Linked DNA regions of Homo sapiens: regions 2, 3 and 4 are each linked to region 1. The links come from fine-mapping of genetic effects on gene expression. A gene starts in region 1. Each other region holds a variant in brackets. All regions are shown on one strand. Distances are between the middles of the regions.

Region 1 (8,155 bases):
CCTGTAATCCCAGCACTCTGGGAGGCTGAGTTGGAAGGATCACTTGAGCCCAGGAGTTTGAAACCAGCCTGGGAAACATGGTGAGACCCCCTCTCTACAACAAATATAAAAATTACCTGGGCATGGCAGCTTATACCTGGGGTCCCAGCTACTCAGGAGGCTGATGTGAGAGGATCACTTAAGCCAAGAAAGCAGAGGTTGTGGTGAGCTGAGATCACACCACTGCAGTCCATCCTAAGTGACAAAGCAGTACCTTGCCTCAAAAAAAAAAAAAAAAAAAGAAAAGAAAAGAAAAAAATTGGTATCCAAGAAAAATTTAAAATCTCTCTCTACATAGAAATGTATATAGTCATAGTGTATTAATCAAAAAGTAAATTCTTAATAGTTCATGACAAGCAAATGGCAAGCCAGGCATGGTGGCTCATGTTTGTAATCTCAGCACTTTGGGAGGCCCAGGCAAAAAGATTGCTTGTGTCTAAAAGTTTGGGACCAGCCTGGGCAACCTAGTGAGAACCAACCTCTCAGAAAAAATCAGAAATTAGCCAGGCATGGTGGCATATGCCTGTAGTCTCAGCTACTCAAGATGCTGAGTTGGGAGGATCACTTGAGGCCAAGAGGCCAAGTCTGCAGTAAGCCATAATCACATGACTACACTCCAGCCTGGGTGACAGAGCAAGACCCTGTCTAAGAAAACTATAAAAGAAAAAGAAAACTATAAAAAATATAAAAAGAAGACATGAAGTGAGAAGCTACCATGTCCAGGGCAAAGACAAAGGGCCCAAGCAAAAGCCCATTCCCCTCCTCACCCCCAGTAGACAAGAAAAACCATGAGACACTAAATAAAACAGAAATCACTGTGAAACCACACAGGCAGAATTTACTATCGATTTGTCAGAAATCCACTCTCAAGGTTAAGAGACAGTTTTTGCTAAGGCACTCTGCTGTAAAGTGAACAAATGAGAGTCCAGGGAAGCTTTAGGCTCCTTGATGCTGTTGACCATCAAAGGCTTAAAGCTGGATCTGGAAGAGGCAACTGTGAGGCAAGAGCAAAACCAGAAGAGGCTACCATGAGGCAAAAGATGGGCCTTGAGTGGCCACTGTGAGGCAGAAGATGGGCCAGACGAGGCCATTGTGAGGCAGGAGCTGGTGTAAGAGAGACCACCATGAGACAGGAGCTGGGTCTTGGGAGGCAGATCTGAGGTAGGAGATGGGCCTAGTGAGGCCACTGTGAAAAAGGAGCTGGGCCTAGAGAGGCCAGTGTGAGGCAGAAGCTGGGCCGGTTGAGGCTGCCAGAAGTCAGATAGGAACATGGCCGGGGAAGGCCACCATGAGGCAAGAGCTGGGCCTGGAAAGCCTGCTGCGAGGCAGGAGAAAAGCCTGGAGAGGCCATTGTCAGGCAGGAGCTGGGCCTGTTTAGGCTGCCACGAGGCTGACAGTAGGCCTGGAGAGCTTGATTTGAGAAAATTTTGAGCCTACAAAGGCCACCAGGAGCTGGGCAGAAGCTGAGTCCAAGGAGGTTGTTGTGAGGCAGGAGTTGGGCCTGTAGACACAGCAGGGAGGAAGAGCTCGGCCTGCAGAGGATGCCAGGAGGCAGCAACTGGGCCTAAAGAGGCCGACTTGAGGAAGTTCTGGGCCTGGAGAGGCCGCCAAAAGGGAAAAACTGGGCCTGGAAAGGCCGTTGTAAGGAATGAGCGGGGCCTAAAGAGGTCATTGAAAGGCAGGAGCTGGGCTTGTCGAAGCTGCCAAAAGGCAGGAGTTTTGGACTGGGGAGGCTACAGTGAGGCAAGAGCTGGGTGTGGAGAGTCCGCTGTGAGGTAGAGGCTGGGCCTGTACAGACCTTAAGAAGGCAGGAGCTGGGCCTGGAGAGGCTGACTTGAGTTCAAGTTCTGGGCCTGAAGAGGCCACCAAGTCAAAAGCAGGGCCTGAGAAGGCCACCAAGAGGCATGAGCTGGGCCTGGACAGGCTGATGGGAGGAAGTTTTGCACCTGGAGAGGCCACCAAAAGGCAGGAGCTGGGCCTGGAAAAACCAACTGGAGGACGATTTGGGTCTTCAGAGGCCACCAGGAGGCAGGAGCTGGGAAAGAAGAGGCCAATTTGAGGATGATTTGGGCCTGCAGAGGTTGCTGGGAGGAAGAGCTGGGCCTGGAGAGGCTGACTGGGGGAAGTTCTGGGCCTGGAGTGGCCAAAAAGCGAAAGCTAGGCCTGGAAAGGCCACAGTGAGGCATGAGCGTGGCCTACAAAGGCCATTGGGAGGCAGCAGCTAGGCCTGTAGAGGCTGCCGAAAGGCAGGAACCTGGTCAGAGGAGGCCATGGTGAGGCAAGAGGTGGGACTGGAAGGTGCACTGTGAGGTAGAGGCCAACAACAGGCAAAAGCTGGGCCTGGAGAGATGACAAGAGGAATGAGCTGGGCCTAAACAGGCCAGTATGAGAAAGGACCTCGGCCTAGAGAGGCCAGTGTGAGGCAGGAGCTGGGCCTGGACAGGTTGCCAGAGGCATCAACTGGACCTAAACAAGCCATTGTGAGGGAGGAGCTAGGCCTGTTGAGGCTGCTGGGAGGCAGGCGGGAACTTGGCCCACGGAAGCCACTGTGAGGCAAGAGATGGGCCTGGAGAGGGAGCTAAGAGGCAAGAGCAGGGCCTGCAGAGGCTGTTCTCAAGCCAGAGCTGGGTCTGTACAGGCCACTGCAAGGCAGAAGGTGGGCCTAAAGAGCTTGACTTGAGGAAGTTTTGGGCCTACAAAGGCCGGCAGTAGTTGGGCAGGAGCTGAGCCATAAAAGGTTGTTGTGAGGCAGGAGTTGGTCTTGTAGATACAGCCAGGAGGAAGAGCTAGGCCTGGAGAGAATGCCGGGAGGCAGCAACTGGGCCTGGAGAGGCCGACTTGAGGAAGTTTTGGGCCTGGAGATGATGTCCCGGGACAGGAGCTGGGCCTGGAGAGGCCACTGTGAGGCATGAGCTGGGCGTAGAGAGGCCAGTGTGTGGCAGGACCTGGGCCTGTCCAGGCTGCCAGGAAATAGGTGGAAACTTGGCCAGGGAAGGTTGCCATGAGACAAAAGTTGGGCCTGGAAAAATCATCGTGAGGTATGAGCTTGGCCTAAAGAGCCATTGGGTGGCAGGAGCTGGGTGTGTAGAGGCTGCTGAAAGGCAGGCGCTTGGCTTGTGGGGGGCCACGGTGAGGCAGATGCTGGGCCTGGAGAATCTGCTGTGAGGCAGATATTGGGCCCGTAGAGGCTGACAGAAGGCAGGAGCTGGGCCTGGAGAGGCTGCCAGGACACAAAAGCTGGGCCTGAAGAGGCTGCCAAGAGGCATGAGCTGGGCCTAAAGAGACCAGTGTGACAAGAGATCGGCCTGGAGAGGCCGACTTGAGGAAGATTTTGGCCTAGAGAGTCTGTCAGGGGCAGGAACTGGGCCTGGAGAGGCCACCGTGAGGCATGAACTGGGCCTAATGATGCCAGTGTGAGGCAGGAGCTGGGCCTGTCAAGGCTGCTGGGAGGTAGGCAGGAACTTGGCCAGGGATGACCTCCGTGAAGCAAGAGCTGGGCCTGGAAAGGCCATTGTCATGCAGGAGCTGGGCCTATCCAGGCTACCAAGAGGCAGAAGATTGTGCTGGTGAGCTTGACGTGAGGAAGTTTTGGGCCTACAAAGGCCTCCAGGAGCTGGGCAGGAGCTGAGCCAAAAGAGATTGTTGTGAGGCAGGAGGTGGGCCTGGAGATTCAGCTAGGAGGAAGAACTGGGCCTGGAGAGGCTCACTTGTGGAAGTTCTGTGACTAAAGAGGTTGCAAAAAGGCAAAAGCTGGGCCGGAATGGCCACCATGAGGCAGGAGCTTGGCCTAGAGAGGCCACTGGGAGGCAGGAGCTAGGCCTGTAGAGGCTGCCGAAAGGCAGGAGCTTTGCCTGGGAGGCTGTGGTGAGGCAGATACTGGGCCTGGAAAGTCTGCTGTGAGGCAGAGGTTGGGCCTGTAGAGGCCAATGGGAGGCAGGAGTTTGGGCTGAAATGGCAGACTTGAGAAAGTTCTCAGTCTGGAGAAGCCACCGGGATGCGGGAGCTGGGCCTGGAGAGGCCACTGAGAGGCATGAGCTGTGCCTAAAGAGGCCAGTGTTAGGCAGGAGCTGTGCCTGAAGAGGCGACTTGAGGAAGTTTTGGGCCTGGACAGCCCGTCGGAGGCAGGAGCTGGGCCTGGAGAGGCTGCCGTGAGGCATGAGCTGGGCGTAATGAGGTTAGTGTGAGGCAGGACCTGGGCCTGTCGAGGCTGCCGGGAGGCAGGTAGAAACTTGTTCAGGGAAGACCTCCGTGAGGCAAAAGCTGGGCCTGGAGAGTCAGCTGGGAGGCAAGAGCTGGGCCTGGAGATGCTGTTGTCACACAGGAGCTGGGCCTGTCCAGGCCATTGGGAGGCAGAAGGTGGGTCTGGAGAGCTTGACTTGAGGCAGTTTTGGGCCTACAAAGGCCACCAGGAGCTGGGCAGGAGCTGAACCAAAAGAGGTTGTTGTGAGGCAGGAGCTGGGCCTCCAGGCACAGCCAGGAGAAACCTCAGCCTTTAGAGGCCACCTGGAGGCAGCAGCTGGGTCTGGAGAGGCCAACGGAAGAAGGCAGGAGCTTGGCCTTGAGAGGCTGACTTATGGACATTTTGGGCCTGTATAGGCTGCCCAGAGGCAGGAGCTCGGACTAAAGAGACTGTTGTATGGCAGGAGCTGGGCCTGTACAGGCCACTGGGAGGCAAAAGGTGGGCCTCAAGAGTCCACTGTAAAACAGGAGCTGAGTCTTGGAAGGTGGCTGTGAGGCAAAAGATGGCCCTTGGGAGGCTGATGAGAGGCAGTAGCTGGGCCTGGTGAGGTTGACTTGAGAACCTTCTCTCTGGGCCTGGAGAGAAGGCTGGGAGGCAGGAGTTGGGCCTAAAGAGGCCATTGTAATGATGGAGCTGGGCCTGTGGGGGCTGCCATGAGGCAGCAGCCTCATCTGTGGAGACTGCCATGAGGTAGGGTATGGGCCTAAATAGGCCATTGTGAGCCACAAGCTTGGCCCGTAGAGGCCGACTGGAGAAAGTTCTGGACCTGGAGAGGCTGCCGGGAGGCAGGAGCTGAGCCAAAAGATTCAAGCGCATTACATTTATTAGGCACTTTATTTCCATTATTACATTGTAGTATATAATGAAATAATTATAGAACTCACCATAATGTAGAATCAGTGGACATGTTAAGCTTATTTTCCTGCAACAAGATGGTCCCATCTGAATTGATGGAAGAAAGTGACAGATAATCAGGTATTAGATTCTCATAGGGACAGCACAACCCAGATCTCTCGCATGCACGGTTTGCATAGGATGCATGCTCCTATGAGAATCTAATGCTGCTGCTGATCTGAGAGAAGGCGGAGCTCAGGCGGGAATGTGAGCAATGGGGAGTGGCTGTAAATACAGATGCAGCTTCCCTCACTCAACACCACTCACCTCCTGCTGTGTGGCTCCTTACAGCTCCATGGCTCAGGGGTTGGGGACCCCTGCTGAAGTGCATCCAAAAGGACCATTCCCACACCAGTCTTCATAGCGGTCAAGTGCAGCAACCACTTAGCTCCCAAGGCATGTGCCTCAGCTGGCATTTCATCACAATCAACAGTAAGCAGTAGCTTGAGTCATTGTGAGGTCACTTCCTGGAAATCACCAGCATTCCGTTTCCCATTGGCAAGGAGCTCAGCACTGCCCCTTGGATAACCAAACCTATCCCCAAATCCCATCTGTGTGAGTCTATCTCCAGGGACCCTTCTTAGCATATTAGAGTCCAACCAGGAGACATAAACCACTCAAAAGTTTAAAGTGGTAAATTTAATACAGAGAATTATTCATTGTAACAGGGGAACAGCATAATGAGAGACTGGCTAGCACAAAGTAAAGAGAACTCCAGAGAATATAGGACTAGCCCAGGCCAGGCATGGTGGCTCATGCCTGAAATTCCAGCAATTTAAGAAGCCAACACAGGAGGACTGATTGAGGCCGGGAGCTAGAGATTGGCCTGGACAACACAGTGAGACCCTGTCTCTATCCAAAAAAAGAAAAAAATTAGCTGGGAGTGGTGGTGCACACTTGTAGTCCCAGCTACTCAGGAAGCTGAAGTAAGAGAATAGTTTGAGCCTGGGAGGTCAAGGCTACAGTGAGTCATGATTATGCCACTACAGTCAAGCCTGGGTGACACAGCAAGACCCCGTCTCAAACAAAACAACAAAACGACAACAACAACAACCATTTACAGACAGAAAAGAAATAGAGCTAATAAGCTAAGGGAAGATGCTGAAATGTGACCAAGTAATATGCGGTATTTTATCTATTTAAAATAATCAAACAAAAAATAACTTATTAAATTATAATACCCTGTGCAGGCAAAGGTGCAGTGAAATGGACACTTTCTTATACTAGGAGGGGTGTTTAAATTGTACATAGTCTTCCAAGGTAAAGGTTGGCAATTTTTTAAAATAATAGAGACAGGGTCTCACCTTACTGCCTCCTCCAACTCTTGGCCTCAAGCAATCCTCCTGTCTTAGCCTCCAAAGGGCTGGGATTATAGCCAGGAGGCACCCAAAACCTTGTCAATGTACATCAAGGGCAATGAGAATGCCCATTCACCATGACTCACAGTAATCTTACTTCTGGAAATACCTTGGGGAGACAATTCAATCTAAACAAAAGGTCATCTGCATAAACACAGTGAAATTCTGGGAGTAATTGAAAACAGAGTGGTTAAGTTAAGTAAGAAACAGTTATAAGAAATTATACTATGGTATTTATAGGCACCTGGTAAAAGGTCAGTTAATGTTAGCTGCTACTTTTTTGTTGCTTTGAGACAGGGTCTCACTCTGTCACCCAGGCTGGAGTGCAGAGGCCTGATCACGACTCACTGCAGTCTCAACCTCCTTGGACTCAAGTGATCTTCCCACAGCAGCCTCCCAAGTAGCTGGGACTACAGGAACATGTCACCACACTAGGATAATTCATGTACTTTTCTGTAGGGATGGTGTCTCCTTTGGTTTCCGAGGCCTGTCTCAAACTCTTGGCCTCAAGCCATCCTCCTACCTCAGCCTCCGAAAGTGTTGTGATTACTGGTGTGAGCCACCACACCTGGCCAGCTGCTACTTTTATTATTATTCCTCTCAATTAAAAATAATTTTCATTAAAAATTATCATTTTCAAGGCTATGGAACAATATGTGTCATACAGCATAATTGTAAAAACATATACAGTCATCCCTCGGTATACAGAGAGGATTAGTTCCAGCCCCCCATCTCTGCATATACCAAAATCCATGCATACTCACATTTCACAGTCAGCCCTCTGGAACCCACATATAGGAAAAGTCCAAATATTAGTTGGGCACAGTACCAAGCACCTATAGTCTCAGCCACTTAGGAGGCTGAGGTGGGAGGATCACTTGAACCTGGGAGGTTGAGGCTGCAGTCAGCTGTGATGGCACCACTACACTCCAGCCTGGACAACAGAGCAAGACCCTGTGTCAGAAAAAAACAAAACAAAAAAACAAAAAATGGGTTAGAAATTGTAGTGAGGTCTGTTGGGCAAAATTCCATATAAGCAAAGTATAAATTAATGAAGCAAATGGTGATGAATTAGTATGATTGACTTTCTGGAGTTTCTGACAATAAAGGTAAGAAAAATGCAAAACACAGAGACAGAGGGTAAAAAAAGAAATTAGTGAAGCATTCTACGAGTTTAATAAAATGACACTGGCCATGTTCGTGCAGCAGCAGTATGTCATGATATGACATACCTTGGAGAGAAGTTAACAGATGAGGAAGTTGATAAAAATGATCAGAGAAGCCAACTACCGATAGCGACAGTCAAGTAAACCACGAAGAATTTACACAACTGATGTCAGCAACGTGGAAATATTGTATAGTGTGTGTTGAAGTTCCTGTACATTGTTTATTTGCTTTCTGTTTGAAAGAAATCTATCTACTAAGTTATTATTGCTATCAAAAGAATATGTGTGAATAAGTCATTTGAACTTATTCTTCTGTTTTTCTACTTTTATCTTCCTGCCATCATCTCATAGCCTTACTTTAGAATTTTTTTATTTTTTTAGAAAATTGAACAAGTGCTCCTTGTGGTGGCTCATACCTCTAGGATGGAAGGCAGGGGTAGAAGGGTCACTTGAGGCCA
Region 2 (8,155 bases), 790 kb after region 1:
TATTGAATGATAGCATTTGTGCAACACCTATGTACTAGGGCTGTGCTGACTGCTTGTACACTTGCTGTTTAATTTTACAATAACCTTACAAGGCAGGTGGCATACTAACCTCATTTAACAAATAAAATGGAAGTGGAGGCTTAAGTTTATTATCTAGTATCACTGAGGGAGGACATAGCACAATTAGGATCTAAAACCACGAAACCTTGATTTCAGAACCTACACTTCCACTCACTGTGCCAGTGTGTCATAAAGTATACATACTTTTGAAAAACTCATTTATTTAATATGGATCAATGTTATATTTCTTTAATATACAGCAATGTACATAATATCAAAGTTATGTATTTATCTAATATAGATCAAGAGTTCACAGCTCTTATCACTAAGGATTTCTGGGTTTCTTTAGTAAATTTTAAGAAAAGTGTTATGAATTAACAGTACAGATGATACAAGCATATGGCAAAAGTAACAAGGAGGTACTCCAATGACTGAAAGTTTAGAGAACAAAACTCTTACCTTCCCGGCCAGGCATGGTGGCTCATGCGTGTAATCCCAGCACTTTGGGAGGCTAAGGCGGGCAGATCATGGGGTCAGGAGATCGAGACCATCCTGGCTAACACGGTGAAACCCCCGTCTCTACTAAAAATATGTAAAATTAGCCAGGGGTGGTGGCATGCACCTGTAATCCCAGCTACTTGGGAGGCTGAGGCAGGAGAATAGCTTGAACCCGGGAGGCAGAGGTTTCAGTGAGCCAAGATTGCGCCACTGCACTTCAGCTTGGGTGACAGAGTAAGACTCTGTCTCAGAAAAAAAAAAACAAAAACAGTGGCTCACGCCTGTAATCCCAGCACTCTGGGAGGCCAAGGTGGGTGGATCACAAGGTCAGGAGATTGAGACCATCCTGGCTAACATGGTGAAACCCTGTCTCTACTAAAAATATAAAAAATTAGCCAGGCGTGGTGGCGGACGCCTGTAGTCCCAGCTACTCGGGATGCTGAGGCAGGAGAACGGCGTGAACCCGGGAGGCGGAGGTGGCAGTGAGCCGAGATCGCACCACTGCACTCCAGCCTGGGCGACAGAGTGAGACTCCATCTCAAAAAAATAAAAAAATAAAAAAACAAAAAGCTCTCACCTTCTCAAAAGGCACCTTCTTCTTTATATGCTGCAATATTGTATGACATTTTCACAACAATTGCGTATTACCTCAAAGAGGTTTTTTGAAAAAATAAAACAACCCCTCCTGAAACATTTTTCAAATAAAACAAAAGTAAAGGCACTATCTCAATGTGTACCTTCAGAAACTGGAAACATCCTTCATATCTAACAATAAGAGTTAAGTACAGGTATCAACTTGATTAAATGGTCCTTAATCATTAAATTAATGACTATAAGAAAAAGAGATCATAATATACTGCCGATTATTACAAGAACCTGAGTATACATATACCATATATCATGATAAAGACTCTTTAGACCAAAAGTAAAGGTGAAAAGAGAAATGAAAACAGGGATAGATGATATAAGGCTTTTCCCTCAACTAATTTACTCTAACACTATCTTTGTAATACATGTGTTTAGAACAAAACAATGCCACAATGAGCATCTAAGTTAAAACCGTTATCAGAGAGGCAATTCCAGAATAAACAGATACAATATGCTCCTTGATGGAAAGACCTGCTAGTGAGAACTGACTCCTTCCCATATTCGTCTATAAATTTAGCACAATTCTAATCAAAATCTCAGTGGGATTTGTCTTAGAACTCATCAAAATTATTCTAAAATTCACCGGAAACAGTAAATTCATGACAATAGCAAAGAAAAATTTGGAAATGAGCATATTTGCCCTATCAGATATCAAACTTCTATAAAAAGCCACGGGGGAGGGGTGGTAATGGAATAAACACAGACCGACCTGTCACTGGAACAGAACTGAGAATCCAGAAAGAGGCCTTATGTATGCAGAAAAGCCTTGTGGCATTTGAAATATGAACAAGTCAATGAACTGAGAGAGGCAAAAGCCTATCCATTTAGGAAAAATTTAGATCCCTACCCTTACACTAGATACAAAAGGAAATTCCATACAAACTAAAAGAGCTCAGTGTGAAAAAAATTTTTTCATATAAAGTATATGAAAATATTTTAAAGATAATCTTGGGATGGTAGAGATTTTGCTAAACCAGAAAAAAAAAAAAACTATAAATATGTGAAAGATTTTCCAGTTGAATAATGAAGAATTTTTTTAAGTGAAAGATCTGACCACCTAAGTTAACACTTCTATGTAAAGACACCATAACACAAAATTAAAAGACAAATAACAAATGAAGAGAAAATGTGTAACACATATAACAAAAGATTAACCATTGTGACATCTAAAGAACTCCTATAAAGCAATAAGAAGAAAAGATAAACAACCCAGAAAGGGAAAAAATGGGCAAAGGTATGAACAGGCAATATCCAGAAGAAATGCAAAATTTTTGTCTGTACAAAAATTATGTTGTAGATTCATGTAACACCCAGTAAACTACATTCTAGGAGGTTAAAGAAGTCATGTTTTTCAGAACTAACAAATTACATATATTTACACAATATCAGAATGGGAAGTGCCTGTCTGAACTTGAATCTACAGACAAAAATTACCAAGAAAAATCATTAAAATTATCATAGACTTAAAAAAACCTTTGTACTAGCATTCGTCTAAATCGATGTGAAAAATTCTAAAATTTATCCAGGCAGGAGAAGAAACACAGTTAATAAAAACATGAAAACCTCATTATCAAACAAGGTGATTATAAATTAAAAAATAAATTTTTTAAATGTGAAACCATTAAATCTTGCTGATGCTTGGGGAAAATGCAAATCAAAACAATAACATGACAATTTTCATAAATCATATTGGCAAATATCTAAAAAATGAGAATGCCCAATTTGGCAAGGGCACAGGGCACCCAATATTCTCTTCCATTACTGGTGGAATTTTTAACAACATGGGAAAATAGTGGTAATATTTTCTTTTTTTTTGAGACAGTCTCACTCTGTCGCCCAGGCTGAAGTACAATGGCATGATCTCGGCTCACTGCAACTTCTGCCTCCCCAGTTCAAGCAATTCTCCTGCCTCAGCCTCCCAAGTAGCTGGGACCATCAGTGTGCATTACCATGCCCAGCTAATTTTTGTATTTTTAGTAGAGATGGGGTTTCACCACGTTGGCCAGGCTGTAGAGATGGGGTTTCACCACGTTGGCCAGGCTGGTCTCAAACTCCTGACCTCAGATGATCCACCTGCCTCAGCCTCCCAAAGTGCTGGGATTATGGCCACCGTGCCCTGCCGTGATATGTTAAGTGAGGAAAAGACAAATTAAACATACAGGAAGATCTAAACCATGTTCTAAAATAATAGTAACTATGTTTTATGAGTACCTTTATGCCAGACACCAGGACTATTTACATGTACTGGTACACTTCATATTCACAATAATCCTATGAGTTAACGCTATTACTACCCTCATTTTATGGAGGAAGAAGCTGAGACAAGAGATCAAGTGACAGAGCCAAGATTTCAACTCAGGTTGACTCTAGAGTCCCAGATCTTAACCACTGGCACAATGTATAGAAATTAATCAAACTCTTTAAACACAGTGGAATTGAGTATACTGTCTACTTTAATTCCCGATTTTGTCATATATATTCTACTATTTTACTTCTCAAATACAACGAGTTTTTAAAAGGATCGGTAATCACAAGACAGCCAACAGTGTCCCTGAAATTCCCCTAGAGATGCTAACTACAAAATAAAACTTATGAATCATAATTCAATAGCTTTAAATATTGTAGTACAAGAACATTTTTCTAAATGAAATTTTATGTGCATCTATAACATAAGAAACAGATTAGGCTGGGTGTGGTGGCTTGCACCTGTAATCCCAGCACTTTGGGAGGCTGAGGAGGGCAGATTACGAGGTCAGGAGGTCGACACCAGCCTGGCCAACATGGTGAAACCCCATCTCTACTAAAAATACAAAAATTAGCAGGGTTTGGTGGCAGGTGCCTGTAATCCCAGCTACTCGGGAGCCTGAGGCAGGAGAATCACTTGAAGCTGGAAGGCAGAGGTTGCAGTGAGCTGAGATCCTG[C/A]CACTGCACTCCAGCCTGGGTTAAAGAGTGAAACTCCATCTCAAAAAACAAACAAAAAAAGAATAAAGCAGTATTTTATTCTATCAATGTATTTCAAAGCTCAAACGTGGCCGGGTGTGGTGGCTCATGCCGGTAATTCCAGCACTTTGGGAGGCCAAGGCGGGGGGTGGATCATTTGAGGTCAGGAGTTCGAGACGAGCCTGACCAACATGGTGAAACCCCATCTCTAGTAAAAACATACACACAAAAAAAAGCCAGGCATGGTGGCACGTGCCTGTAGTTCCAGCTACTCAGGAGGCTGAAGCAGGAAAATCACTTGAAGCTGGGAGGTGGAGGTTGCATTGAGCCGAGATGGCACCACTGCATGCATTCCAGCCTGGGTGACAGAGTGAGACTGCATCTCCAAAAAAAAAAAAAAAAAAAAAAAAAAGCTCAAATGTATAACATGTATAATGAGAACAATAAAATTCTTCTGACAAACACCAACTTTAAATTATGGATGATTGGGCAGTCTTATGTCAAATTTGTTTTGATGGCATGGTATCAAGAAAAACCGGATTCACAAAGATGAATAGATGATAAAGCATGTTTTACAAATGATAATGTTTTGTGTGTGTTTTTTAAATAGTACATTAACGCTATCTAAGAATTTAATTACACCTATCCAGAAGTTTTAAAAGTAAAACATTTCTAAATTAATTATGTAATAGTGTTAAGGAATGAATACTTGGTAGTCGTAAACATTTTGGTAAAAAATAAAAACTTTACAATATGTACTAATCCTGATATATGCATTAGGCAGTCATGTTATTGCATAATGCAACAGTTCTAATAGTACTGAATGTGCTTATATAATGTTATATGAACAAACAAGCACTAGCCTAAAATTTCAAAATATCAACATAAAGATACAGTCTTACTAATCAATAACATTTTTATCCTTTCTAACTCTGAGGAAAAAAAAGGAAAGAAAAAATTTTAATTAAAAAATAAAATGGCATTTTAAAAGTTTCATTTCTATATACAAAGTGAGACACTCTATTCCAAGGATTGTTGTCCTGGGTGTAAGCATTATAGATAATTTACATTTTCTTCCTTTTGCTTATTTTCTCTCAAATATTCTAAATGCACTTTTTTGTGTGTGCTTTTTTACTTTTTATTTTATTTTATTTTATTTTTGAGATGGAGTTTCACTCTTGTTGCCCAGGCTGGAGTGCAATGGCGTGATCTTGGCTCACTGCAACCTCCGCCTCCTGGGTTCAAGCAACTCTCCTGCCTCAGCCTCCCGAGTAGCTGAGATTACAGGCATGCACCACCATGCCCGGCTAATTTTGTATTTTTAGTAGAGATGGGGTTTCACCATGTTGGTCAGGCTGGTCTCCAACTCCTGACCTCAGGTGATCCACCCACCTCAGCCTCCCAAAGTGCTGGGGTTACAGGCGTGAGCCACTGCACCCAGTCTATTTTATTTTATTTTCTTGAGACAGAGTTTGCTCTGTCGCTCAGGCTGGAGTGCAGTGGCATGATCTCAGCTCACTGCAACCTCTGCCTCCCAGGTTCAAGTGATTCTCCTGCCTCAGCCTCCCAGGTAGCTCAGACTACAAGCACCCACTACCATGCCCGGCTAATTTTTGTATTTTTAGTAGAGATGGGGTTTCACCATGTTGGCCAGGCTGGTCTTGAACTCCTGACCTCACGTGATACATCCGCCTCAGCCTCCCAAAGTGCTGGGATTACAGGCATGAGCCACCGTGCCTGGCCAACTTTTTATTTTAAAATTACTATAACTATAAATCACAGGAATTTACAAAAAAGTACACAGGGAGGTCCCAAGTACCCTCGCCCAAATTCCTCCAATCCTGAGTTTATTCAGGTTTCACCAGTTTTGTATGCAAATGGGACTTGAGTACGCTAGGATTTATATGCAGTATGTGTGTGTGTGGTTGTATGAAGTTTTTATCACGTTTGCAGCTTTGTATAATCACACCTGAGACACAGAACTGTTCCATCCCTACACAGCTCCCTCATGCTACCACTTTATAACCACACCACCCCTCACCTCCCATTCCTAACTCCTAGCAACCACTAAATCTGTTCTCCATCTCTGCAGGTTTGTTATTTCAATAATGTTACATAAATGCAATCATACAGTATATAACCTTCTAGGGTTCTCACTTGTTTTCACTCAGTATAACTCTCTTGAGATAACCTGGCAGTACAAATCAGTTGTCTCTAATATATTAAAATTTAGCATGAGATGCATTTGACTGTGTTTAAACATTTATAATATTTTAAAGTTAAAACATTAAAATGTGAATCAAAGGTGTATGAAATCCCTGTTTCATTGACAGAGAACAGGGATTCTGAGATACAAATTTTGAAAACTGGGAATCTAATACAAGCCTAGTACAATGTAGTACAGGTTGAGTATTCCTTATCTGAAACAGCTTTGGAGCTGAAATACTTTGGATTTGGGATTTTTTCAGATTTGGGAATATGTGCATTATATACCGGGTTGAGCATCCCAAATCTGAAAGTCCAAAATCTGAAATGGTTCAAAATCCAAAACTTTGAGTGCCAATATGACACTCAACGGAAATGCTCACAGGGGCATTTCAGATTTTGGATTTTTGGATTAGGGATCCTCAACCAGTACAACAACTTTATAGAAGAAAAGCCCAAGACTCAGTGCTATGTCTTATCAGTGTTTACAAGAGTACATGGTTTACAAGAACGCCTGGTTTTGCACTTGTTATGGGCAAGATCTAGATTCTGGTTCTTTCCCAACCCAGTTGAGTATGTTACATTCAAATATGACCACTTGCTATTCTTCTCAAATGACCACAGTTTGCTACCCCTTCAAGTTCTTCCTAATGATTGAGGAAATGAACTCCTCTTAAATTCCCAGATCTGTGTGGCGCTTTAGCTAGCACCACACCTCAGGTCCAATTCTCCTGTCTTTATATGCAGCAGGTCCACAGGACAAGGCCTCCCTCAGAAAAAGCTACCCCAATCTAGGACAAAAACAAACTCTTTTCCCTCCCCCTCCCTCCATGTGCCCAGAACCCCTTTCTCCTTCCTCCCTAGGCTAACCTGCTAAGTCTTCCGGATAGCTCACTACACTATCTGATAGCTAACTGGGTGTGACAAACCACGTCCTCACACCTTAGAAGGCAAAACACTCCAGGAACTTACTTCTGGAATACCAATACCTTCACAGTAATTTCCCTGCCTTTCCAAAGAGTGCTCTAAACAGGTAAAAGCTATAATACAAACTCTATATATTTTTGTCACAGATACAGAAACTGGCACCATCGTTTGCATATTTTAAAAATCTGGTTGATATGGTTATCACTCTATCAATATTAGATCTAAATGGAATTTAAAGTAGTGGTAAAAGGCTGGGCGTGGTGGCTCACACCTGTAATCTCAGCACTTTGGGAGGCCAAGTGGGAAGACTGCTTGAGGCCAGGAGTTTGAGACCAACTCAGGCAACAAAGTGAGACCTGGTCACTATGAAAAATAGAAAAAATTAGCTAGGCATGGTGGGGTGCGCAACTGTAGACCCAGCTACTCAGGAAGCTGAGGTGGGAGGATCACTTGACCTAGGGAGGTTGAGGCTGCAGTGAGCCATGATTGCACCACTGCACTCAGCCTGGGGAGACAGAGTGAGACAATGTCTCAAAAAATTAAAGAGGAAGGAAGGAAAAGAAAGAGAGAAAAGAAAGGAAAGGAAAGGAAAGGAAGAAGGAGGGTGGGAGGGAAAGGAAGAAAGGAAGACGAAAGAGTAGTGGTAAAGAGCTTGGACTCTTGAGCCAGACTGCGTGGGTTAGAATTAGGCCTCTGCCACTGTACTACCTGGATCAAATGTTAGTCTGAGTGGCTCAGTTTTCCCATCTGTAAAATGGTGATAAAAGCTACCTGCCTCATGGGACTCTTGAGAGACTTCAATAATGTATGCAAAACATTTAGAACACTGCCTAGCACATAGTGAGCATTATCTGTAAGTATTAACATTTATCTCTAC
Region 3 (8,155 bases), 150 kb after region 1:
ATGCAAGACACGGTTCTGGAGCCAGCAGCTTTATTGGTAGCATCCTGACTCAATAGGCAGCTTTCCTGATAATAGCAGGAACATCAGCCTCCTTGGTGGCCCACTCATTGTGTGGCTCTGGAAATCATTCCTGGATATTCCACCTAGTCTGTTTCTTTAGCTTTCCCAACAACTCTGTGAGCCATGTAACATTCTGTAATAAATTTCTTTCTGCTTAAATTAGTTAAAAGCCTCTTTTGTTTTCTGCAAATGAACCCTGAGCAATATAGTTGACTAAGATCAAACAACTACAAGTCATGCGTTGTTTAACGATGGAGATACATTCTGAGACATACACTGTTATGTGATTTTGTCTCACAAACATCACATAGAGTATATTTACACAAATCCAAATGGTATAGCCTACTACACACCTAGGCTATATGGGATAGTCTGTTGCTCCTAGGCTACAAATCTGTATAGCATGTTACTGTACTAAAGACTGTAGGCAACTGTAACACTGGTTACAATGGTAAATATTGGTAAATATGGTAAACAATGGTAAATATCTGTATATCTAAACATAAAAAAGGTACAGTAAAAATATAATCATGGGACCACCACAACGTTGTTATTCAGTGCATGACTGTATTAGCTCAGACGTTAACCAAAATGAGTCTGCCTTCAAAGCTCCATTCACTCAATCTCTATACTACACCACTGCAGTTCTGGGAGGCTGTTCTCCCTCAGGTCTCCCAGCTCTTCTAATGTCTGCTGAAGTTGGAATTCTCTTCTGCACATGGACTACGAAACTGACATGCTCAGTTATCATTTCATACTAGCTAAAGGATCTTCTCCTTTGTGAAGCATCCCTCACCACTACTACTGTGATGGGTCGGGGCCTTTCATCTGTTTTTCCACAGCATCTATGCTTCTCTTCACTGTATCATTTATCAAATTGATGATTTCTGCGTCCTGTAATAAACAGTGAGTACCTTAAGAACAAATGTCATTTCTTATTTCTCTCTACCCTCAGCAACTGGCTTATTAGAATAAACAAATAGTTAATGCTGCTAAGTGAATGAATGACCTAATATAATGGGAAAACATAACTTGGAGGATGGTTCAGTTGGCCGGCTTTATAACATGTTAAGATGCAATAATGGACAGGAAAGCATGAACAAAGTACAAAGCGCTGTTATCCACCATCATAAGTCTTTGTCTATATCCATCTTGTCTACATGGGCTCTCTAAGGGCAGAATCCTAGCTAGCTGATCTGTATCTAGCACAGAGCTTGTTTCTTAGTGTATGGAATGAAATCATCCACTAAAAATTATTAGTTGAATGTGGCTGGTGCCAAATACTCTTCCGGGCAGATCAAAAGAGATCTCAACCAAGATACAAATGATATAATATAATATTTTTCTTTCTTTCTTTTTTGTTTTGAGATGGAGTCTCACTCTGTTGCCCAGACTGGAGTGCAGTGGCATGATCTTGGCTCACTGCAAGCTCCGCCTCCCGAGTTCAAGCGACTCTTGTGCCTCAATCTCCCAAGTAGCTGGGATTACAGGCTACTATTTTTAGTAGAGACGGGGTTTCACTCAGCGGGGCTGGTCTTGAACTCCTAGCCTCAAGTGATCCTCCCGCCTCGGTCTCCCAAAGTGCTGGGATTACAGGCATGAGCCACTGCACCTGGACGATATAATATTTTTCTCTTTTAAGAGCAAACAATAAAGAATTTAAACTCATTTGCTTTTAGCAAAAGCAGTACTGTTTGCTCTTAAAAGACATAATTTTTTAATCTTTTAAGAGCAAACAATACTGCTTTTGCTAAAAGCAAATGAGTTTAAATTCTTTTCATATCATTCAGGCCATTTTGAGGAAGGTCTGGCAGAGCCTTTTGGTTGTTCCCCAATATCTTTCTCCCATTCTTCCTGAGTATTAGAGTCATCGCATGTAAACCAGGCATTAGTCACCCAGAATAAAGACTGCATGTCCTCGCTCCTTGAAGTGAGAGATGGCCATGTGACTTAAGTTCTAGTCAATGGAATGCAAGTAAAATTAGAGTGTACAACTTTTGGGAAGTGTCTTTAAACAAACCACAGGGTGGAGATGATACCTTTCTCTTCCCGTTTCCTTTTCCCCACAGGATGGAATACAGGGGGGACAGTTAGATTCTGAATTGTTAAGCAGAGCTGCTTGATGCAGAAGATGAAGACACAAGAAAGAATGAGCCTAGGCCGGGCACAGTGGCTCACGCCTGTAATTCCAGCACTTCGGGAGGCCGAGGCGGGAGGATCACTTGAGCTCAGGAGTTTGAGACCGGCCTGGCCACCATGGTGAAACCTCGACTCTACCAAAAAAAAAAAAAAAAAGCCAAAATTAGCCGGGTGTGGTGGCATATGCCTGTGGTCCCAGCTACTTGGGAGGCTGAAGTGGGAGAATCACTTGAGCCCAGGAGGCTGCAGTTGCAGTGAGCTGATATTATGCCACTGCACTCCAGCCTGGGTGACAGGGTGAGACCCTGTCTCAAAAAAAAAAAAAAAAGAATGAGCAAGCCTAGATCCTTGATGGTCATCTCAGCCCTGTCCTGCCTATGAGGAAGACTTAAACTTTGCTCCTGTTTTAGCCACTGTTACTTTGCATTTTGGTCACTCATCCTAATATATAAAATTAAAAAACTAAAAACAGGTTCTTTGTAACTATTTTGTTGTGTACTAATCATCAATCGAGTCATGAATATAAAGAGCTCTTTTAAAAAATATGTTCAAACCACAATCTAATCCAAATATAAACAGACCATAAAACCGTGTGTGAATGTAGACCAATAGAGTCAGAATATCAAGCCTAGTAACCAACACCAGAATTCAGAACAGTCAAGCTGAGTGTAACGGCACTAACTCTGTCAGATGAAGGGATGATTACCCTACCTGATGGTGAATTCCAGCAGCTCCTGGGCTCCCTGAGGGTCCAAGTGCTGAAGACTATACACTCTTTCAAGGCTCTGCTGCAGGAACTGCTGCGAAGGATCCTCTTGAGGTATGATGCTGGGAGAAACAGCTGATGACACCAGTTTTCTACCTGG[T/C]AACTAAGCAAACACAGTGGGATTATAGAGTCATTAAGTTTGGTGGCTCAGCTTTTGGTAACACACACACAAACACATAAAAGCACATTAAAAATGTGAGCTAAACAAAACAAAGGGGAAAAAAGGCTAGGAGATTCTATAAATAACATTTCTCCCCTTCCTCAGCAACAATTGGGAGTTAAAGAGAAAGAGACAAAATGCAAACATGGTCTACCCAATACAGCCACAGCTGCCAGGAGAAAAACAGAAAAGGTATAATATTTTCTATTGCTAACTGAAATAAATGGGCCAACCATAGGAAGGAGACTAAAAATTAAACTGTTGCTACATCTTTTTTTTTTTTAGACAGAGTTTCACTCTTGTTGCCTAGAGTGCAATGGTACCATCTCGGCTCACTGCAAACTCCACCTCCCAGGTTCAAGCGATTCTCTTGCCTCAGCCTCCTGAGTAGCTGGGATTAGAGGTGGCCGCCCCCAGACCCAGCTAATTTTGTATTTTTAGTAGAGACAGGGTTTCTCCATGTTGGTCAGGCTGGTCTCGAACTCCTGACCACAGGTGATCCGCCTGCCTCAGCCACCCAGACTGCTGGGATTACAGGCGTGAGCCACTGCACCCGGCCACATTTATCTTTAAAACACTATCTTATCTTTCACTTGAAGGAAGAGTAATGATTTATTCCCAAATAAACTTATATAGCATACAATTTTTTCATGAGAATAATTTTTTTTTATTTTTGGCCTAGCCCTTCAGATATTCTTACTGTTAAAAGTGGTTACCTTTTAAGATGGATGGGGAGGAGAGAGCAAAGAGTATTTCACTTTTCAATTTGTATCTACTTGTTTTTTGTTTTTTTTTTTGAGATGGAGTCTCACTCTGTCGCTCAGGCTGGAGTGCAGTGGCACAACCTTGGCTCATTGCAACCTCTGCCTCCTGGGTTCAAGCAATTCTCTTGCCACAGCTTCCCGAGTAGCTGGGACTACAGGTGCCCACCACCATGCCCAGTTAATTTTTGTATTTTTAGTAGAGATGAGGTTTCACCACGTTGGCCAGGCTGGTCGTGAACTCCTGTCCTCAGATGATCCACCCGCCTCAGCCTCCCAAAATGCTTAGATTACAGGCATGAGCCACCGCACCTGGCCTCATTTTGTATATTACTCCAAATAAAGTGATTTGGAGTCACCCAAGCAGGGATGAGTTAATGCAAATAGAGAGATTGGAAGAGTACCTGGGCCACAGCATTCACGAAGTGTTTGCTATTATTATTACGATCCATTTTTAAATTTTCTTCTTTATATCTCTAGGTTTTAAAAATAGTAAAGGTTTTATTTTTAAAAAATAAGCACTTCTGGAGAATCATGGCTATATGTAATAGTTAAAATATAACAATTTAGGCTGGGTGTGGTGGCTCATGCCTGTAATCCCAGCACTTTGGGAGGCCGAGGCAGGCAGATCACGAGGTCAGGAGATCAAGACCATCCTGGCTAACACGGTGAAACCCCGTCTCTACTAAAAAATACAAAAAATTAGCCGGGTGTGGTGGCAGGTGCCTGCAGTCCCAGCTACTCGGGAGGCTGAGGCAGGAGAATGGAGTGAACCTGGGAGGCGGAGCTTGCAGTGAGCCGAGATCGCGCCACTGCACTTCAGCCTGGGCGACACAGCGAGACTTCGTCTCAAAAGGTAATAATAATAAAAATAAATAAATAAATATATAACAATTTAAATTCTTGATCTAAAATATAATCTATTGTTCCAGGTTCCTTTCTTCTTGCCTAATATCAATAACCCAGGGACACCAAAAAAAATGAATCATCTTAAAAGGTAAAGGATACAAAAGCAAAAGTATAAAACAATGGCAAAGAGCCCAAGAGAGAAGGAGAATGAACAAACAAGTTTTCAGAGAATATATGGACTGCTTTCTACTATTTAATAACCACAAAGCACAAAAAATAAAAAGCCAAAAACAAGCTGCACACAATGGTGCTCACCTGTAATCACAGCGACTTGGGAGGCTGAGCCAGGAGGATGGCTTAAGCCCAGGAGTTTGAGACCGCCCTGGGCAACATAACAAGACCCCCATCTCAAAGGAAAACATGAACACAAATACCCCTACCCCATGCAAAATAAAAACAAGGACAACAGATGTTTTCAACATACCCTCAAGGCAGGAACAAGATGAGAAAGACTGTCTCGGAGGTAGGCATAGTGCCTGACGGTGTGATCTGAGAACAATGCTCGCATTGTTGGACAGGTTTTAGCAGCATTGAAAATAAGTACCAAAACTGCAATATCTGATAGATCACTGGGTTAAGTAAACTTGGAAGTATAAAAGGTTGGCCAGATTCTGGCACTCTCACTTTCCACCTCCAAAATCTCCATCAAGAGACTATGATTTTCTAATAATCAAAGAAATGCAAATACAAACAACAAAATACATTCCCCTACTCCACCCACACCCCCAATTACCAAAGGTTTTTAAAAATGCCAGAGACTGCCAAGAATACAAAAAAATGGAAATGATTTTGCCTATAAAGTAAGCAACTATATTGCCTATCAAAGTACATACTGGCCAGGCATGGTGGCTCACGCCTGTAATCCCAACACTTTGGGAGGCTGAGGCGGGTGGATCAGTTGAGGTCAGGAGTTTGAGACCAGCCTGGGCAACAAGGTAAAACCCCGTCTCTACTAAAAATACAAAAATTAGCCGGGAGTGGTGGCAGGCACCTGTAATCCCAGCTACTTGGGAGGCTGAGGCAGGAGAATCATTTGAATCCAGGAGGCGGAGGTTGCAGTGAGCTGGGGTGGTGCCACTGCACTCCAGCCCAAGCAACAGGTTAGGAATTTGAGACCAGCCTGGCCAACATGGTGATAACCCGTCTCTACTAAAAATACAAAAATTAGCTGGGTGTGGTAGCGGGCGCCTATAATCCCAGCTACTCAGGAGGCTGAGGCAGGAGAATTGCTTGAACCCGGGAGGCAGAGGTTTCAGTGAGCCGAGATCAAGCCACTGCACTCCAGCCTGGGTGACAGAATGAGACTCTGTCTTCAAAAAAAAAAAAAGGAAAGAAAAGCAAAGAAAAGAAAACTCAGACCACCCTAGCTACACTGCAGAAGGAGATGCCAAAGCTGCCTGCCAACACATCAGGGCCCATCCTAAGCACAGAGGATACAAGCTGGATCATCCATGTCTGGTTCAGCTGTGTCAAAAAATGGGTGGGTGCTCAGAAGCTCTGGCACCAAGGGAAGCACCAGGGTTGGATGCCGACTTCCCAGAAACTTCAAGCACCTGAAACAAACAAATAAGAATGCACATCAACAAATTAGTAAAGTTAGTCCTTTGAAAAGTACTAGGAACTGGAATCAGAAAACCTGAACTGGAATTGGAAATTCTCAACCATATACTTTTGCTAACTCTATGACTTCAGATAAGTCACCCAGTTATTCTGGAACTTGGTTAATTCATCTAAAAAAACTGGTTATTATAAAGATAAAAGAACTGTTTATTTAACCAACAGCCATTTCCCCCATCTTTCTTCCTGAGAGAGCCCTGATTTTACTCAGGTATCAGGCAGGCAGCAAAGTGCTCGGAAAAGGCAGGTCCAGCCCAAGAGCTGAACCACTATTGGTCTAAACCCATCATGGCAACCCCATTCCCATTTTCCAGTGACTGGTTTGCTGGTACGCAAGTAAGCCAGTTCTAGACAATGGAGCACGAGAGTATGCTGGCTGGGGAGCTTCTCAGGGATGTTTTTGCAAATCAAAAGAGCAATGCATGAAAGGGAATGACCCTTCCTTTCTGTCTTGAGATATTATCTTATGAGGCAGCCATCTTACAACCATGAGAAGAAAGCCGGCCGGGTGCGGTGCCTCACGCCTATAATCCCAACACTTTGTGAGGCCAAGATGGCTGGATCAGGAGGTCAAGAGATCAAGACCATCCTGGCCAACATGGTGAAACCCCATCTCTGCTAAAAATACAAAAATTAGCTGGGCATGGCGGCACGGGCCTGTAGTCCCAGCTACTCGGGAGGCTGAGGCAGGAGAATCGCTTGAACCTGGGAGGCGGAGGTTCAGTGAGCCGATATTATGCCAATGCACTCCACCCTGGCGATAAAGAGAGACTCTGTCTCAAAAAAAAAAAAAAAAAAAAAAGAGCCAAGAGAACTGCAGAGAAACCAAAGAGAGCCCTGGTAACCTGTTGAATGACCAATCCTGAAACCAACCTTCTGACCTCGTTATGAAAAAACAGACTTATTGGCTAAGATATTTTTAATCAGATTGTCTTTTTTATTTGTGGGCAAAAACATTCTAATTGATATCCTGGGTGAAGTCCTGAAATCACAGATCTGTCTGAAACTAAGTAGCCTTATGCAAGTAAATTTTTTCATCTACAAAATGAGATTAAAAGTCATTACTTCATAGAGTTGCTATATGCATTAAATAACTAACATAAAGTACTCAGCAAAGTGTCTGTCACATAGTAAGAACTCAATGTTAGCTATTATAACTACCTGAGGGCCCTTTATAAACTATAAGGAACTATACAAGCAAGGTAATTATACATTTTTATTATTGTTTATGGTTTTTTTTTTTTTTTTTTGAGACTGAGTCTTGCTCTGTTGCCCAGGCTGGCATGCAGTGGCACAATCTCGGCTCACTGCAACCTCTGCTTCCAGGGTTCAAGCGATTCTCCTGCCTTTGCCTCCCGAGTAGCTGGGATTACAGGCATGTGCCACTACGCCCAGCAGATTTTTGCATTTTTAGTAGAGATGAGGTTTCACCATGTTGGCCAGGCTGGTCTTGAACTCCTGACCTCAGGTGATCCACCCGCCCCAGCCTCCCAAAGTGCCGGGATTATAGGCGTGAGCCACTGCACCCAGCCAATTAAGTGCACCTTCTAAACCAGAACTTAATGAATAAAAAATAATAAGGCCGGGCACAGTGGCTCATGCCTGTAATCCCAGCACTTTGGGAGGCCAGGGCAGGTGGATCACCTGAGGTCAGGAGTTCAAGACCAGCCTAACCAACATGGTAAAACCCCATCTCTACTAAAAAAAAAAACAAAAATTAGTTGGGTATGGTGGCGTGCACCT
Region 4 (8,155 bases), 64 kb after region 1:
ACTGCATCATTTCAACTAGCATTTATTTACTCATGATTAAAATACTACAACAACTATAAAAAGTCAAGTGATGGCCAGGTGCAGTGACTCATGCCTGTAACCCCAACACTCTGGGGGGCCAAGGCGGGTGGAGCACCTGAGGTCAGGAGTTTGAGACCAGCCTGGCCAACATGGCAAAACCCCGTCTCTACTAAAAATACAAAAATTAGCTGGGCATGGTGGCTCTCACCTGTAGTCCCAGCTACTAGGGAGGCTGAGGCGGCAGGATCGCTTGAACCTGAGAGGTGGAGGTTGCAGTGAGCCATGATCACGCTGCTGCACTCCAGCCTGGGTGACAAAGCAAGACTCTGTCTCAAAGGAAAAAAAGAAAAAGTCAAGAGCATAGGGAGTATTAAAATCAGACATAACCAATGGTCTCTCATCTGAACAGCTCCATTTTTTTGCTATCATTATGTGTTAAGGTCTATTTGCTAAACATTACTATTTGTACTAAAGTTTCAAGTGTATCCTATAACACATTAGTGCTGACTTAGGTTTAATGTCCTTTGCTGTACACTATACTTGAATATCATACTTATATATCACAACAAAAGTATCTTTCTCTAAGGCAATTACCATTAATACTGCTTTAAAATTACAAAATGTGGGCCAGGTGTGGTGGCTCGCGCCTGTAATCCCAGCACTTTGGGAGACCAGGGCAGGTAGATGACGAGGTCAAGAGATCAAGACCATCCTGGCCAACATGGTGAAACCCTGTCTCTACTAAAAGTACAAAAATTACCTGCGCGTGGTGGTGCACACCTGTAGTCCTAGCTACTCTGGAGGTTGAGGCAGGAGAATCGCTTGAACCTAGGAGGCGGAGGTTGCGGTGAGCCGAGATTGCGCCATTGCACTCCAGCCAGAACAACAAAAGCGAAACTGTCTCAAAAAAAATATATATATATATATAAAATGTGAAGATTGTTTTTATAGTTTCACAACAACTGAATATTAATGTCTTTAAATAGTAAATCACCATCACAACAAAAGCCCCACAACATAATCTGTTTCATTTTATAAAAAGCACTGACATTTATAAAATTGTCATAGTCAATTTATAAAACTGTAATAGCAAATTATTTTTACTCAGAATAGTACTAAATTAACAATATAATAAAAACATAGGCCGGGTGTGGTGGCTCACACCTGTAATCCCAGCACTTTGGGAGGCCGAGGAGAATGGATCATTTGAGGTCAGGAGTTCGAGACCAGCCTGGCCAACATGGTGAAACCCTGTCTCTACAAAAATATAAAAATTAGCTGGGCCTGGTGACACACCCCTGTAATCCCAGCTACTTGGGAGGATGAGGCAACAGAATCGCCTGTAATCCCAACTATTCGGGAGGCTGAGGCAGGAGAATCGCTTGAACCTAGGAGGTGGAGGTTTTAGTGAGCTGAGATTGCACCAATACACCGCAGTCTGGGCAACAGTGTGAGACTCTAACTCAAAAAAAAAAAAAAAAAGGATAAAAGTAGAGACAATAGAGGCATCTTGGTGAATACCGAATTTAACAAAGCAGATTAAGAGAAACAATTAGTTTCAAAAAATAATATTCAATTAAATCTCTAAGATCCAGGGCTTTGCAATAAACATGTAAATAAATCCCCAATATCCATGCTGAAAGTTTAAAAGAAATGCTAAAGAAATAAAACTTTTCCTTAGTTTTGCAGTAATCTAGAAACAAAGAATGTTTCTAATATTTAGACAGAAACTACAAAGCACCTTACAAGGAGAGACGTGTAAGGATGGCAGGATTCACCAGCAGCCCTGGGCTTGTCCACAGTACTCCCATGATGAACAATAACTCCATTGTGTAAATGCTTATGAACAAAGTATTACAGGACTTTTCCAATTTAAACATACCATATTTTCTGTCAGACAATTCTTCAACTTGTTTACATAGATCAGCGATATGATTATTCCACTTCTCTGAAAACTGAGCAAAAGTTGATTCTCAATAATATGTCCCTATGTCAGAGCAGCAATAATATATAATGACTTATTTCCTATATTTTACATACTAACAGTCCATATCATTTTACTGCTTTCGAAAACATTTTTCCCTTTTTTGGTGGTTCTTAGAATTAGTTTAATAGGAGACTACAAGAGAAGTTTTAAAGTTTAATGCCTTTTTTTAGCCTTTAATTTCTGAAAAGGAGGGCAGAAAAGATCAATCAAATTAAACACGACAACAGGGAGGCCACAATGAGGAGGTCTCCAGAGGCCTTTTCGCAAACTTCCTAAAACATGTCTCAGCTGTGTGGAAATAAGGCTTTACAGCAGCTGGGTGCAGTGGTGCAGGCCTGTAATCCTAGCACTTTGAGAGCAGAGGTGGGCAGATTATCACTTCGAGCTCCGGGCAACAAAGCAAAATCCCCCCTCCCCTCCCCAACCCCCTGCCTCCGCCCCCGTCTATGCCAAAAATATAAAACTTAGCCAGACATGGTGGCAGGTGCCTGTAGTCCCAGCTACTCAGGAGGTTGAGGCAGGAGAATCACTTGAACCCAGGAGGCGGACGTTGCAGTGAGCCGAGGCCATGCCACTGCCAGCCTGGGTGACAGAGCAAGACTCCGTCTCAAAAAAGAAAAAAAAAAAAGATTAAGTAAGAGGGACACCAGACCTTAAAAATACAAGTTTAAGAGGGACCCTGACTCAGCGTGGTGGCTCATGCCTGGGACTTTGGGAGGCCGAGGCGGGCGGGTCACGAAGTCAAGGGATCTAGACCATCCTGGCCAACATGGTGAAACCCTATCTCTACTAAAAATACAAAAAATTAGCTGAGAGTGGTAGGTGCGCATCTGTAGTCCCAGCTACTCAGGAGGCTGAGGCAGGAGAATTGCGTGAACCCAGCAGGCGGAGGTTGCAGTGAGCTGAGGTTGGGCCACTGCACTCCAGCCTGGGCAACAGAGCAAGACTCTATTGAGGCAAGGTTTCTCATTCTCAGGTCCGAGGGGTTCAATAACTGGGCCCTTAGGGAGGTGTGAGCCCCCTGAAACGATGCAAGGTTTTGTGTGGAGAGTGTGCACATGCGTTTCCGGGAAAACAGCCCACAGTTCTCATTCTCAGCAGGCTCCACACTCAAAAAAGGTTAGACTCTTGCTACAGAGCTGTGGGAGCAGCTAGGTGAGGGGCCTGCCAAGGGCACTCTGGGGACTACCTGGGCAGTCTTGAGCCCACCTGGGCAGTCCTGAGCCCACTGTCCCCTAGGCAGGCTGCGCTGCTTGGTATTTGCAGAGCTGAGGGGGTGGGGCATGCGGGACTGTGAAATCGCCCTGAGATGACCCACAGCACTCAGCTGGGAAGTGAGGGGTGTGTATCCTGCAGCATCCTCCATCCCTAGGGCCATGGGGCCAGGAGAACTGACCCTTGCAGCAAGTGAAAAGCCTATCATTGACTCCCTCCCTGGCCATGCAGACAATGAACCAAAGGCACTCAAATCAAGTAAATGCCTTGGTCTCTGTGACCGACGTGACCAGTAGGCATTCCCAGGTGCAGGGAAGGTCCTGACACCAAGATATGCACCTGGTTGCCTGAGGAAAG[C/A]GAAAGGACTATCCAAGGGGTTGGGGCTGAGCTGGGTGTGGAGTGGTCCTTGTGGGTCATGGTGAGTGGGAGGGGGAGCAGCATGAGCCAGGCCTCGGGGCAGGAGGACAACCAGGAGATGGCCTGGAAAAAGTGCTGGACCCACGAGGGTTCAAGGCTGGCCAGAGAGGGAGGTGGGATAGGCTGGGAAGTCCCGAGGTCTGAAGATTGGCCCTGGCAGGCAGAAACCAGGAAAGGTGGGCAGTTACCTGCACCCTGGGGGCCAGATGCATCCTTAGCCTAGAGCAGGTGCCAAGATTTCTGGCTCTGGGTGTGACCTAATTCTGGGGAAAAGCCCCAACCCCCACCAGGACCACCTGCCCCCCAAACTACTTCAGATGCTGAGCCCAAGCCAGGAGCAGGAAGCTGGACTGATGCCTAGGGTAATCCCGACAAAGTCCCTGACTCCCCCCAGCTATGGGGCTGAAGGGGAATTACAGCCCAAACCCCAGATGCTGGCTCTCAAACTAACCCTGAGCCCTCAGTGCCCAAAGGGAGACTCAATCAGCACACTTTCCAGATGGGGAAACGGGCTCAGAGAAGTGCAAGAGCCTTGCCCAGTGCCCCAGACCAGGACTCTAGGCCCAGAGTGTTCTTTTGTCACTGTGTCCAGAGGGTAGCAGCTGCTCTGATATAGCCACCTGAGCCTGGCAACTTTCTCCAACTTTGGAAGCCCAGGAGCATGACCTGTGCCCACAGATGCACCTGGCATGAGGTGCACCCAGAGGGACAGAGGCAGATGAGTTTTGCCTCCTCCACTGGATTGTGAAGGCCTCCAAGGAGACAAGGATCTGCTTGAGAAGGCAGCAGATAGTCAGCAACCTGGGGTGGTTTAACTCTGGATGGATCTGCAGTGCCTGGATGGGACCTGGCTCAGACAGAGCTCAGTTCTGCAGGTCACTGAGGCATGGAAAGGTCACAGCTACCAAGTGTAGGAGTCTGGATTCAAAGCCAACAGCGTGACTCCAAAGTCCCTGCCCTAGCCCCTGGACCACCCACCTCTCGGAGTCACCCTTGCAAGCTCATCAGATGTTCAGGCCAGCAGCACAACCAGCCAGGGCCAGGGAAACTTGGGGAGCCTCATTCCAACATAATCCTTGCACCCTTGCCCCTCACCATCTTTCTTCCTGCGTTAACCTCACCCCCTACACAGAGCCTGGGCCACTTAACTTGGCATCAAACAGATGCCTCAATAAATCAGAGTCTGATCTTCTCGGAAAAAAAAAAAAAAAGACTTAACAGATATACAGTTGCAAGTTAGAATGTTAAAGAACATAAGCATACAACAACTTAATGTACATATAAATTCAATATGTAGCCAATCATTGTGACTATGACACAACAGAATATTAACATACTATTTTCAAAATGTATACAAGCTTAATGATCTATTTATATTCAAAATATGAATCATCAACATAATTTGCCATTAATATCTCATTCAGTCCCTTCACAGGACACATGATCCACTGGGAGTTAACACAATAGCAGCTGGCAGGCAGTGACACACAGCAAAAACGAAAACCAACAGGTGAAATAGTTCTGAAATAAAGAAGGTTTTAAAGCTAAGAGAAACCATTGAATTCCTAAGTCATTAGGACTAATTTTGAGCCAACTAATTAATATGAGATGAAACAATGTCCTATGCTTTGGTAAATTCAAACCATGTTTAAACAATGTCTATAATGGGACTTTCAAAAAGCTCCTGGCTTTACAAAGGTGAGATTATAACATAGTAATACATGCTAAAGCATTTCCCCCTGCAGATGAGCATGTTGTAACTTTCATCAGCCACATTGAGAGTCCAGAAGATGAGGGAAAAGGTTGTGGATTTCACTGAGAACTTACCAGAGTTGAACTCCCTCACTTTCCGTTGCCCATCATTGGCAGGTTCCGGAACTGGTGGCTGTGGTAGTTTGTTGGTCTTTGGTCTCTTAGAAGGTGGAGAATCATCATCATGTTGAAAAAGAAAATGGTCATTACTGAAGGAACAATTCTAGGTTACAGCCACCTCCTGGTAAATTCCCAACATTCAAAAGGTGAGCGGCTTTAAAGCTATTTTGAATATTAATAATTATTCCTGTACTATGATCTTCAGCATACATTTTTCTAGTTACATTTGAAATTTTATTCTTTTGGGATGTGCTCAAGTGAATACTGCTTTATCCTCTGTCTTGCTTCATTACTTTTTAGTTTGCTTCATTTGAATCATCATTATAAATCTCCCCTTGCCCTCAAATAACTCTGAAATTGCTGCCAATAACTATATTGTTTTAAGGCTTTTCAGAAAAAACTTTCAACAAAGACAGCCACCTAAAGTTATACAAATATAGAAGAAAGGGAATATAATAAAGCTTAGATTGGAAAAAATATTTAAGCTTATACAAAATTCAAACATACATAAACAAGGGAAGCTGGATAATTTTATGTTCAAATACTTTTAACAAGTGCAAAATGTATATGCTTAAAGAAATAGGGTTGGCCGGGCATGTTGGCTTATGCCTGTAATTCCAACACTTTAGGAGGCCAAGGCAGGCAGATCACTTGAGGTCAGGAATTCAAGACCATCCTGGCCAACATGGTGAAACCCCATCTCTACTAAAAATACAAAAATTAGGCTGGGCGCGGTGGCTCACACCTGTCACTTTGGGAAGCTGAGGTGGCCGGATCACCTGAGGTAGGGAGTTCAAGACCAGCCTGACCAACATGGAGAAACCCTGTCTCTACTAAAAATACAAAGTTAGCCAGGCGTGGTGGCACATGCCTGTAATCCCAGCTACTAGGGAGGCTGAGGCAGGAGAATCGCTTGAACCCGGGAGGTGGAGGTTGCAGTAAGCCGAGATGGCGACATTGCACTCTAGCCTGGGCAACAAGAGCGAACTCCGTCTCAAAAACAAAAACAAAAAGATATTAGCCAGATATGGTGGCGCCTGTAATCCCAGTTATTCAGGAAGCTGAGGCAGGAGAATCGCTTGAACCCAGGAGGCGGTAGTTATGGTGAGCAGAGATCATGCCACTGCACTCCAGCCCAGGTAACAGAGCAAGACCCTGTCTCAAAAAAAATAGGGCTACATTATTTATGAAACAGATACTGTTGACTCAGTCACCAGAAAGCGAAGGTCGCCAACATCAGACAAATTCACTGGAGGACCTATGTATGTGCTTTGAAAGACAACACTGTTTTGGTAAAGAATACTGTATTTCAGAAAAACATAATCATATTAACAACTAATAACACTGTAAAATGCTGATGTGTTGAATGCTACTTTAGAAAAACATGTTCAAGTCTAGGAAAAAGATTTCCGATAGAAAACTACGTATCAATTACCTAGCTAGCTAGCTATCTAGAGACAAGGTTTCATTCTATTGCTCAGGATGGAGAGCAGTGGGATGACCATAGCTCACTGCAGCCTTCAGCTCCTGGCCTCAAGTTATCCTCCTGCCTCAGACTCTTAAGTAGTGGGGCCACAGGTGGACACAGGTACACCTGGCTTTTTTTGTTTGTTTTTTATAAACAGGGTTTCACTACATGGCCCAGGCTGGTCTCAAGCTCTGGAGTCTTGCTCTGTCGCCCAGACTGGGGTGCAGTGATGCTTCTCGGCTCACTGCAACCTCCGCCTCCTGGGTTCAAGAGACTCTCCTGTCTTAGCCTCCTGAGTAGCTGGGACTACAGGCATGCACCACCACGCCCGGCTAATTTTGTATTTTTAGTAGAGATGGGGTTTCTCCATGTTGGTCAGGCTGGTCTTGAACTCCCAACCTCAGGTGATCGGCCCGCCTCAGCTTCCCAAAGTGCTGAGATTACAGGTGTGAGCCACCGCGCCCAGCCTAATTTTTGTATTTTTTTGTAGAGACTGGGTTTCACCATATTGGCAAGGATGGTCTCAAACTCCTGACCTCAGGTGATCCACCCGCCTCGGCCTCCCAAAGTGTTGGGATTACAGGCGTGAGCCACCGCACTTTCTTATGTTATTAAATAGCCTAGCCCAGGAGGGTACGGTGGCTCACGCCTGTAATCCCAACAACTCTAAAGGCCAAGGTGAGAAGATCGCTTGAACCCAGGAGTTCGAGACCGGCCCGGGCAACATAGCAAGACCCCCCCCATCTCTACGGAAGATACAAAAATTAGGCCAAGCGTGCACCGCGCCTGGCTAATCTTTGTATCTTTCGTAGAGACGGGGTTGCGTCATGTTGTCCAGGCGCATCTCGAACTCCTGAACCCAAGCCATCCTCCTGCCTCGGCCTCCCAAAGTGCCGGGATAGCACGGCCCAGGGAGCCTCATGTGTTCTTTAAGCAGTCCCTCCCGGTTGTACACTTGGATAGTTTTCTTTTTTATTTTTTTATACAGGGTTTACCTCAGTCTCGCAGGCAGGAGTGCTGTGGTGAGATCACAGCTCATTGGAGCCTTGAATCTTGGGGTTCAAGTAGCTGGGAGGCTGAGGTTGGACTACAGAGGTGGGGTTGCGCCATATTGCTAGGCTGCTCTTGGCCTGAAGGAATCCTCCTTCCTGGGCCGTGCCCGGACACATAGTTTT

Alleles and levels. Alleles are on the strand shown, and positions count from the first base shown. SD is a standard deviation of normalised expression in the study named. Not every link is listed here.
For the expression in pancreas of the gene that starts at base 3,550 in region 1, allele T in region 3 goes with a higher level than allele C (moderate effect, 0.65 SD a copy in GTEx).
For the expression in unexposed skin of the gene that starts at base 3,550 in region 1, allele A in region 4 goes with a higher level than allele C (moderate effect, 0.53 SD a copy in GTEx).

What was found. PIP is the estimated chance that this variant, and not a neighbour inherited with it, causes the effect.
Region 2: its variant is fine-mapped to the expression of LINC03129 in unexposed skin (GTEx, PIP above 0.99). The same link has a PIP of 0.9 or more in prostate and thyroid.
Region 3: its variant is fine-mapped to the expression of LINC03129 in pancreas (GTEx, PIP 0.96).
Region 4: its variant is fine-mapped to the expression of LINC03129 in unexposed skin (GTEx, PIP 0.94).

The regions. Positions count from the first base shown.
Region 1 is chr7:65,835,099-65,843,253 of GRCh38, reverse strand. LINC03129 (long intergenic non-protein coding RNA 3129) reads right to left here and starts at 3,550. Exons shown (of 1, transcript XR_002956508.2): 1 at 852-3,550. RefSeq lists an enhancer at 3,701-4,212.
Region 2 is chr7:65,045,619-65,053,773 of GRCh38, reverse strand. It overlaps the pseudogene CCT6P3. Among named protein-coding and RNA genes, the nearest start is that of SNORA22C, 16 kb to the left of the region's middle. RefSeq lists a silencer at 6,736-6,936. The variant C/A (reference allele first, on the strand shown) is at 4,129.
Region 3 is chr7:65,689,921-65,698,075 of GRCh38, reverse strand. All of the region lies in intron 3 of LINC03006 (long intergenic non-protein coding RNA 3006), which reads left to right. It also overlaps the pseudogene INTS4P2. Among named protein-coding and RNA genes, the nearest start is that of SNORA22, 62 kb to the left of the region's middle. The variant T/C (reference allele first, on the strand shown) is at 3,066.
Region 4 is chr7:65,771,047-65,779,201 of GRCh38, reverse strand. It overlaps the pseudogene GTF2IP5. Among named protein-coding and RNA genes, the nearest start is that of LINC03006, 4.3 kb to the right of the region's middle. RefSeq lists enhancers at 2,811-3,310, 3,311-3,812. The variant C/A (reference allele first, on the strand shown) is at 3,581.